Linked DNA regions of Homo sapiens. The protein of the gene in region 1 purifies or fractionates together with the protein of each later gene. This does not show direct contact. Each region holds a gene or a part of one and is shown in the gene's direction. Other genes may lie near its edges.

Evidence for each region.
Region 2: the proteins of C2CD3 (region 1) and BBS4 purify together in Homo sapiens (co-immunoprecipitation; one study listed by IntAct). This does not show direct contact.
Region 3: the proteins of C2CD3 (region 1) and BBS7 purify together in Homo sapiens (co-immunoprecipitation; one study listed by IntAct). This does not show direct contact.

Annotation. Positions count from the first base shown.
Region 1 is NC_000011.10:74,101,453-74,105,108, reverse strand, and holds part of C2CD3 (C2 domain-containing protein 3), read left to right. Parts: intron 1-1,483; coding exon 1,484-1,978; intron 1,979-3,656. UniProt on the Homo sapiens protein: Component of the centrioles that acts as a positive regulator of centriole elongation.
Region 2 is NC_000015.10:72,692,701-72,696,356, forward strand, and holds part of BBS4 (BBSome complex member BBS4), read left to right. Parts: intron 1-2,476; coding exon 2,477-2,528; intron 2,529-3,656.
Region 3 is NC_000004.12:121,828,975-121,832,630, reverse strand, and holds part of BBS7 (BBSome complex member BBS7), read left to right. Parts: intron 1-3,656.

The DNA of each region.
Region 1 (3,656 bases):
GGTTCATGCCTCTGTGTTTTTGTTATTGATTATCATACTGCCTTTTCTTCTTGAAAGCCTTGTCTCTCTTCTTGGTCTTAGTAAATACCACTTTGCTTTAAAGACTTACACAATTATTATTGCAAAAAATTAACATCACCTACTCTTGCTATCCAAGTTATAGTTTTTGTCTGCCTGGTTCATTCTGAACTACAAAGTTTAAAATCAGAAAGGGGTTATAAATAGGATTGATCAACTAGAAATTTTTTCTGTTCTGGCTCTTTTGAGAGAAATACTATTCTGGATAGATTGCTGTCTATATTCAACAGAGTAAAAGAACCTTGCTATGTAACACTTAGGATTTCAGATCGAAGAAACAGCAAGAACCTTTTACCCCTAGTAATTGAGTCTCCTAACAGTTAGTGACCACTTCTGTTCTTTAAATTCATCATTTATCCTGCTTCCCTTTTCTTTTTTACTTTTTAATTATTTAGACTTTTTTATACCCTTTACTGAGACTCCCCAATTCTTACTATTTGTCACATTTTCTTTATAATTGTCTGTCTGCCTCTTCTCTGCCTCTCTCTCTCTGTCCCTTTATCTCCTCCCCCCATACATGTACATACACATTTTTTTGTGAACTATTTGAGAGTAAGTTGTACATCATGCCTCTTTCCCCCTAAATTCTTTAGTTTATATTTTATGTATTTCCTTAGAACAAGGACATCATCATGCATAATACTCTAGAGTTACAAAAGTCAGCATAGCATTGATACTATATCTGCAGGCTATACTGAGATTTCACCAATTATACCAGTGCCTTTATAGCAAATATTTTTTTCTAGTCCAGGATTATCTATTGCATTTTGTCAGATCTTCCTAATCTCCTTTAGTCAGGAACAGTTCTGCAGCCTTTCTTTATTTTTCAATATGCTGATATTTTTAAGTAATGCCAGTTATTTTAAAGAATGTTCCTCCACTGGGGTTAACCTGAATCACTTATTACTGTGATGATTGTCAAATGGTGATTTCTAACTCTACCGTCTCTTTTGCATTTATTAATTGGCATTCTATATAGAGAAGCTGTTTCTTCTCTCATATTTATTTTATATCAGGATGGATTCATGGATTCTTATTCAATAGTTTATAATCCATTACTGTTATTCATTCTGATGCTTAAGTTGTCCTAGATTTAGCCAGTGGGAGCCTCTTCAGCTGGATTCTGGGTCCTTTAAACATGGCTCCATTCTTTTCTGGGAACTATCTTATATTCTGGCATAACTTGATCTTCCAGGCTCATCTTTTGTTATTGATAAATCATCTGTCTAGTTTTTCTTAGTCTAGCAAGTTAATGTATATGCATTCTGTTAATATTCTTACTATTAGAGTGTTTGAGGATGAGTTAATTCATTTCCTAATAATCTGATGTTGTTTCCAGCCTCAAAATTCTAATTCCAATTCTAAAGGACATTCTTATTGACTCTTCTCCTTTTGTGTTTTACAGGTAACCATGGAGCTTATTACAGATAACAAAGATTTCACTGGTATCAATACTAAGTTAAGTGGCAACACCCATTATACCCCACTTTGTGCTCCTACAAGTCCAAATAAGGCACTACCAGAACTTAACCAAGATATGACCTGTACCAAAAATCCACAAAACTTAAACCAAATTCATGAGGAAACTGCAAAGAAAGCACAGAACTTGGTGCTCCCCAACCGAAAGTCACCAAGCCCTGTAGCACCACATCCTTCAACCTTCGTAGCTACGCCAGCCTCCCATAATTTAGTCAATCAGACAAATGGGACAACAAAAGAGAGTGCTTTGCTGTTGCATGTGCTGTTGATGGTGCCAGATGGGAAAGATTTTATTAGTGGAGAATCTGAGAAACAATCACCATGCAATGTTTATTTAAATTGTAAACTCTTCAGCACAGAGGAAGTCACCAGATCTGTCATCGCATGGGGCACAACACAACCGGTCTTTAACTTTTCTCAGGTAACTTTGTACATTCCATATCCATTAGAGGAATATAGGGGTGAGAGACAAATGCCTCCCAAATTATTATTTCGTCTTAAATCTAGAATGTTCAGACTAGAAGGAACCTTCGTAATTATCTGGTGTACAGATTCAGTCCCACTATTGGATGGGAAGAGGGAAAGGCATTGTCAACATTTTAAAACTGTTTGTCTTTATTTCTATTCTGTCTGAGTTCACATGGTTTCTCACTGTTTCTTTTGCCTGAGTTTTGGGATTCTATTCCTTTCTGCTTCCTCTAAGACTTTGATTAGTTAAACCTCCCCATCTTTCTCCAATCTCTCCTTCTTTATTACTTTATTTTATATATTTCTCCTCACATTTATTCTTCTGCCTACTTCAGTATTCATCTTAACTTGATTTTTCTGTGTAATGTGGTGCTTAAATTGTTTTCTTTCTTGGTTTTTGTAACTTTACTGTCTTAATTTCTTCCTCACTCAAAGCTGTTCTTTTTCAGTCATTGGGCCAGAAGGAAAACTAGGAAAAGGGTGGTAACCCCAGTACTTCTTCCTTTAACTGTTGGTGCTTCCACTCTTACTCTATTGCTGGCACTCTTCCAAATCAACCCACTTCTCCCCATGGTCATCACATCTATCAACACAGCTTCAGCACTCATTTTTATGAAGATAACTTCCATGTCTACATTTCTATATAAGCCAGACATTTCCTTTTAGTTTGAGATTTCTGTATCTAACTGCCTGCTGGTCATTATCACCTGGATATCTCAGAAGCAGTTTACACTTGGCACCTAACACATTGCCTGGCACATACTGGGTATTCAATAAAGATGTGTAAATGAAAGAATGAATTCAAACATGTTCAAATCTGAATTTATCACTTCTTCCAAATCTGTTCTTCCTCTTTTTGTCTGCCCTAATTCAAATTATAATTTACTCAGGCACCTAAGTAGAACCTGTTATTTGTCCTTGACTCTTTCTTATGTAATTACTTACCAAGTCTAATAGATACTACTAACTTAATTATCTGGAAGACATCCCTTTACCTTCACTGCACTGCCACTGCTTCCATTCAAACCTTCACCCTCCTTCCAAATAGCCTTCAGACTGGTATAGCTGTTTCCCAGCTCTCTTTATGTCCATTGCCTCCTTTATGCACCAATGAGAATGACCTTTCTAAAACACTAACCTGAACATTTTACTTTCCTGCTTAAAGCCTTTCCGTGATTCCCTATATCCTTCAAGATGGAATGTAAATCCTTGGCATCCAAGACCCTTTGAAAACTGACTGTATGTACTTCTCCAGCCTCAGCTCCTGCCACTCTTCCCCTTATACTAGATAGCCCAGCTGTGCTCAGCTACTTAGACTTTCCTGAATATTCTCTTCTCCTACTTCTGTATCTTCATATGTGCTCTTTCTTCTGCCTTGAATTTCCTTTAAGCCTTCTTGACACCACTTAAGCAGAGCTTTTTGTATCAGTTAACTCCTGCTCAGCCTTGAGATTTAAGGTTACTTTGTCCCAGAAGTAGTTGCCTGCAACTTCCTTATTTGGAGGTTAGGTTGCTGTTCTAGTTTTACTTTTTTTGGTTTCAAGGAACAGAAATGTGTTCAGGATATAAACACTAGGTTTGTATCCACCTTGTGTTTCTTAGGTGGATACAAAAGTAGCTCTGCTCTGTTT
Region 2 (3,656 bases), on another chromosome or scaffold:
CCTCCCACCTCAGCCTTCTGAGTAGCTAGGACTAAGGGCACCTGCCACTATGCCTGGCTAATTTCTAAAGTTTTTTTTATAGAGGCAGAGTCTCGCTGTTTTGCCCAAGCTGTTCTCAAATTTCTAGGCTCGTGTGATCCTCCTGCCTCAGCCTCCCAAAGTGCTGGGATTATAGGTGTGAGCCACCACACCTGGCTGATCTATCTGTCTTAAACTGGAGAATTGCATTTTTTTCTACCTCCTTTCTTTTTTTTAAAAAAACTGAATTTCCATCTGTTACCCCTCCCTTTCTGCTCCTCTTATTTCATGCCTTGGAAGTTATACTTTGCCTTCCTTTAATGAGTACCAAAGAAATTAAAAAATACATGTTTACTGTAAGTCCAGGCCTAAATGTTGCTACTACAGGGACCATCAAATGCTTTACTACCATCTATTGCCATCTGCAAATGTATGCCATTGTTGTTTAGTTTTGTAGTTCTTAATGTATTTTAATTAAACACCACAAATTATGCTTTTTGTTTGTTTTATTCAGTCAGTAGATGCTTAGAATACTTGCTTATTTTACCAATTCCTTTGCTTATTCCACTCCTTTGTTCTGGGATTATTTTTCTTTTTCCTAATATATTTTCATTAAAAGTTTATTTGGTGAGAATCTAAAAACTCTCAAATTCTGAAAGTTTTAAAAATTTGCCTTTGTTGTTGAAAATTAGTTTTGATGGGTGAGAGAATCTAGATCAGGTGTTAGCAAACCTTTTTTTGTAAAGGGCCAGATAGTAAATATTGTGGGCTTTGTGGGCCATAGAGTCTCTCTGACAACTACTCAGCAATGCTGTTGTAGGACAAAAGCAACCATAGACATTATGTAAACATGAGTGTGGGTATGTTCTCACAAATTTTGTTTATAGACACTGAAATTTGACTCAATTTTCATGTGTTAAAAATTATTATTTTTTGAATTTTTTTAACCATATAAAAATGTAAAAATCATTCGTAGCTTGTAGACCAAATAAACAGGATGGATTTGACCTGTGGGCCATAGTTTGCTGACCTCTGGTCTAAATTAACATTCATTTTACTTAGTACCTGACACTGGAGTAATTATTCTTATGATGTCTTATTGTGATATTGTCTTCCATTTTTAATTGTTGAAGAGCCAGCTGTCAGTCTTTTTTGTTTTTCTTTTTCTTCTTCTTTTTTTTTTGAAATGGAGTTTTGCTCTTATCGCCCAAGCTGGAGTGCAGTGGTGTGATCTTGGCCCACTGCAACCTCTGCCTTCTGGGTTCAAGCGATTTTCCTGCCTCAGCCTCCCAAGTAGCTGGGATTACAGGTGCCTGCCACCACACCCAGCTAATTTTTGTATTTTTAGTAGAGATGGGGCTTCACCATGTTGGCCAGGCTGGTGTTGAACTCCTAACCTCAGGTGATCCACCTGCCTTGGCCTCCCAAAGTGCTGCAATTACAGGCATGAGGCACGGCGTCTGGCCTTTCTTTCCTTTTTTTTTTTTTTTGAGACGTAGTCTTGCTCTGTTGCCCAGGCCGGGGGGCGATGGTACGATCTTGGCTCATTGCAACCTCTGCTTCCCAAGTTCAAGCCATTCTCCTGCCTCAGCCTCCCAAGTAGCTGGGACTATAGGCACGTGCCACCATGCCGAGCTAATTTTTGTATATTTAGTAGAGACGGGGTTTCACCATGTTGTCCAGGCTGGTCTTGAACTCCTGACCTCAAGTGATCCTCTCGCCTTGGCCTCTCAAATAACTGTCCTTTCTTTGTTGGTAATCTGGTGATATGTTTTCTTGTTTGGCTGCTTTTAAGAGCTGCTTCTTGTCTCTGGTGCAGTTCGCTATGATGTATCTAAGTATGTATTTATTTTCATTTAACCTGGTCAGGATTTGTTGAGTATCCAGAAACTAAGGATTGGTGTTTCTCATTACATCTGGAAAAATTTGAGCCATTATTTTTGCTTATATTGTGGTATGTCATAGGAAGTTGAGAAAAGAAAAATTCATTTGATGGTTTTCTATGAGGTTATAGTGGAAAATAACTATCTCCCTTTTAGAATTGAGTGCTAGACAGTTTCTGTGTAGATGATCTCATAAGCTTCCTTTTATCAAACAGCGATCACTTTTTTGGTTTGGCTGCTGAGAAGTATGGCATCAAGTATAATACTCATATGAGGTGTTTAAGAACTGAGTATATTTCTTATGCACATTTTACTATATACTATAATTATACATTAAAAATGCACATTGTAAATATTATAAATATGTGTTATACATTGTTAATAGTTTGGATAGCAAAAGTATGACTTGACATTTGTTTTTTAAACCATATTTAAAGTAACTCTATCACAATATGGATTTAATGGATTAATTGCATAATTGGTGAGCTACTGATTATTCTTGTTATTTGGATGCTTCTTTAAGTTAGCAAGTTTATATTGTGGTGCTTCAATATAGACTACTTATTTCATTTCAGAGAACTCAATTTCCTGTATCTACTGAGTCTCAAAAACCCCGGCAGAAAAAAGGTCTGTATGCAGTTTCATGGTATGTGTATGTTTGCACAGACAGATTTCTCTTTTATTTATTTATTTATTTTTTTTTTTGGAGGCAGAGTCTCACTGTCACCCAGGCTGGAGTGCAGTAGCACAATCTTGGCTCACTGCAACCTTTGCCTCTGGGGCTCAAGCAATTCTCCTGCCTCAGCCTCCCGAGTAGCTGGGATTACAGGTGCACGCCACCACACCTGGCTAACTTTTGTGTTTTAGTAGAGATGAGGTTTCACTGTGTTTGCCAGGCTGGTCTCGAACTCCTGACCTCAGGTGATCTGCCCACCTTGGCCTCCCAAAGTGTTGGGATTACAGGCGTGAGCCGCCACGCCTGGCCAGATTTCTCTCTCTTGTTGATTCTTTTATCTATTCTATATTATTTCAAAATGAGTGTTGGGAAAAGAAGTAATAGTCTAAATGTTCTGTCACATCTAGCTTTTATTTAATAGAGTTATTAGATATTAGGAGGTTGGTTTGACCTGGAAATTATTTAAATGGGGTTTGATTATTATGTAAGTGTGTACTAATTTTCTGCTTCTGGAAAAACCACTTTGTGAAGTTCCAGGTATCTTTTTGCTTTGTTGGTTTCTAGTTTAATTCTATTGTGGGTAGAGAACATTCTTTATATGGTTTGTTTTATGGCCCACAATGTGGCCTGTGTTGGTGCATGTCCCATGTACACTTGGAAATAATGTGTATTCTGCTCTTGTAGGATGTAGCATTCTGTAAATGTCAATTAGGTCAAGTTGGTTGATAGTGTTCTGTATATACTTACAATTACAGATATTCATATTCTTACTGATGTAGTTACTGATTGGAAGGGTGATAGAAGAGTGTTGAAGTGTGCAAATGTAATTGTGGATTTGTTTCTACTTTCAGTTCTATCAATTTTTGATTTGTGTATTTTGAAGATCTGTTGTTGGATGCATATACATTTAGGATTGTCTGATTTCTTGGTAAATTGACCCGTTTGTCTTTATATAATATTCCTCTTCAATTTCTGATAATATTCCTTGTTTGAAGTCTACTTTGCCTGATAATATTTTAGTTTTAGTTATTTATTTAGCTATTTTAGTTTTGCTTTGGCCAGTCTTTGAATGGTATCAA
Region 3 (3,656 bases), on another chromosome or scaffold:
ACGCTTCTCAAGCTTCTAGTTGCACCCCTCGCTCCTCCACCATCACTTCTAACTCATCTTCTATAAGCTCCAATAATTCCTCTCAACTTCTCAATATAGTAGAAACTAAACTTTTCCTTCCTTTTTTTAACCTGTCTCTGAATGTGAAATGGCCTACTTCTTGGGCAAGGCCAATATCTCTACCTCTACCCATTAAGCTTGGATCCTCCTGCTTCTTCAAAGTCTTTGCATTCTCATTCTCACATCTGTAGGTTGTTTTTTGTTTTTGTTTTTTTGTTGTTGTTGCTGTTTGTTTTGTTTGTTTGTTTTGAGACAGGATCTCACTCTGTCACCCAGGTTAGAGTGCAGTGGCATGATCTCGGCTTACTGCAGCCTTGACCTCCCACCTCAGCCTCCTGAGTAGCTGGGACCACAGGCATGCACCACCATGCCCAGCTAATTTTTTTATTTTCTGTAGACAGGGTTTCACCATGTTGGTCAAGCTGGTCTCAAACTCCTGAGCTCAAGCAATCCTCCTGCGTTGGCCTCCTAAAGTGCTGGGATTATAGGCGTGAGCCACCACACCTGGCCTGTAGGTTGTTTGTTTTGTGTGTGTGTGTGTGTGTGTGTGTGTGTGTGTGTTTTTGTTTTTTTTGCTTTGTGTTATTTGTCTGGGAGAGAGCTCATTATTCTTTCTCTGCCTCTGCCTCTTAAGGTTCTTTCCCTAAGCAGATTATTGTGGTTTTCTCCTAAGTTCTAAAAACTTAGCATGGTAAAGTCTCAACTAGAGAGCAAGAAGTAGAATACCTCTTGCTTCTCTTGTTATTTTAGGATAATAACAGTATTATTCTAAAAACATAATTTTACCTCAGAATTCAGCCTTTTAGAACCAAGAACTCTTCAGAAATCTAATTGGTTTTTAACATCCATTCTGTGGAGGTTTTTCACTGTACCGTCCAAGGAAGCTTATCTGTGTCTAAACCTGTAATAATTACTCCCATTTTGAAGTACCACAATGAACCTCACACATTAATCATAGCAGACAATTCAACATGCCCCTAGCATATTATATACTTTTATAATAGCAGACCTTTGCTCTTTTATCATTCTGTGTCTTTGAGTATTTTTTCTTAAGATTCAAAACTGTTTATCCTTTAAGGTCCAACTTAATAGCTACTTTTTTTTTTTTAAGAGAGTCTCACTGTGTTGCCCAAGCTGGTCTCAAACTCCTGGCTTCAAGCAATCCTCCTGCCTCAGCCTCCCCAGTAGCTGGGATTATAGGTGCAAGCTACTGCATCCTGCAGTAGCTACATTTTTGAAGCCTTCTTTGATTCTCCCTTGATTCTCTTCTCTGTTTCCATAGCATTTTTTCTTACTTGTCTGTGATATTTATTGTTATCTGCTTAAAGTATATAATAATTTTTTATTTTTTATTTTATTCTTTTTTTGAGACAGAGTCTTGCTTTGTTGCCATTCTGGAGTGCAGTGGCACGATCTTGGCTCACTGCAACCGCCACCTCCTGGGTTCAAGTGATTCTCCTGCCTCAACCTCCCGAGTAGTTGGGACTACAGGCATGTGCCACCACGCCCAGCTAATTTTTGTATTTTTAGTAGAGACTAGTTTCACCGTGTTGGCCAGGATGGTCTTGATCTCTTGACCTCGTGATCTGCCTGCCTCAGCCTCCCAAAGTACTGGTATTACAGGCATGAGCCACCAAGCCCGGCCTCTAATAATTTTTATACAAACTTATTTCTCTAAGTTAAACTTTATTTTCATGGACAGTCTAATTTTAAATATCTTTGTATGTAGCCTGCAAGGACCTAAAACATAGTTTTGCACATAATAGGTACTCAACAGATGTTTTTCGGATGCCTGAATAAAATATATGTGTATGGAGGTAGTGTAGAAGTATGTGCTTTGGAGGCAGATGTACTAATGTTTCAATCCTGGCTCTGTGACTTACCAGCTGTGTGACCCTAGCTGGTTGCTTAACTCTCTGAACTTCAGTTTTCTTTTCTGAGGAATGAAAATAATAGCACTTACTTTATTGAATTGTTATGATGATTAAAAGAAGATAACCATTTGAGTCATTCTATAGTACCTGGCACTATGTGTTTACTAAATATCATCTGTTAAGATTAAAGACTAATAGAAATGTCATGATTTCTAAAACATAATTGAGATCAAAGTAGTAAGGGTGTATTATTTATCTTTCTAGAAAAAAAAATTATCTTTTTTTTTATTTGTTTTGAGACAGGGTCTCACTCATCAGCCCAGGCTGGAGTGCAGTGTCTCAATCTCAGCTCACTGCAACCTCCTCCTCCCAGGCCCAAGTGATTCTAATGCCTTAGCCTCCTGAGTAGCTGGAATTTTAGGAGTGTGCTACCACGCCTGGCTAATTTTTGTATTTTCAGTAGAGACGGGTCTCACCATGTTGGCCAGGTTAGTCTCGAACTCCTGACCTCAAGTGATCTGCCCGCCTTGGCCTCCCAAAGTGCTGGGATTACAGGCGTGAGCCACCACAACGGACCAAAGCAATTATCATTTGCATATAGCTAGTTGGTATACATCATTTGTGTGTGTGTGAAAACCAAATGAAAAGGTAACATTAACTATATGAAAGATGATATATATTAATTAGGAAACTTGGTCATCGTAAAAAGGAACCAAATGCAAGCAGCTTAACCAAATAAAATAAATTTATCGGCTCACATAACTTAAAAGTCTAGCAGTAATCTGCCTCACGCACAACTGGATCAGTGGCTTAATTGATGTCATCAAGATTTTATCCCTTGTTCAGTTCTGCTTTTATCTTTTCTTGGCTTTACCATGCAGTGTTATGGCCACCAGCAGTTCCTAGAATCCAGTCTTACATATTTTCAGCTGCTATAGAGCTTCTCTTGCCCACTGGCTCCAATAAAAGTCCCAGGATTGAGTATCATTGTTAAGCCATGAACCACTGTGGTCAGGGGTATGGAATGTACTGCTCAATGCTTCCTCCTGAAGTCCCAGAAATAGACTGAGACCATTGCCACTGAAACTGAAGAGGGCAAGAGAAAGAGGAGTGGTACCCTAAAGAAAAATAACGATCCTGGCCGGGCGTGGTGGCTCACGCCTGTAATCTCAGTAGCTCATGCCTGTAATCCCAGCACTTTGGGAGGCCAAGGTGGGCGGATCACAAGGTCAGGAGATCGAGACCATCCTGGCCAACATGGTGAGACCCCCATCTCTACTCAAAATACGAAAACATTAGCTGGGTGTAGTGGCATGTGCCTGTAATCCCAGCTACTTGGGAGGCTGAGGCAGGAGAATCGCTTGAACCCAGAAAGTGGAGGTTGTAGTGAGTGGAGATCACGCCACTGCACTCCAGCCTGGCAACAGAATGAGACTCCGTCTCAAAAAAAAAAAAAAAAGAAAAATAATGGTCCTCTGACCATAAGCAGTGGCATTGGATGCTGAGCATGAAAAACAGCAGATGTCACTCTTTCATATTTGATATCAGATTTCTTTTAAGGATAAAGCATATAGTCACACTGTAATTTGTGTGATTACATGAAAGAAAAACATACTTATGTAAGTAAGCAATTCTAAGTGCATTTTATATATGTCTATATATGAGACTAGCTGTTGGAAATATTAGTGAAAAATGAAGATAAAAGTTGTTTAAATGAAGTTT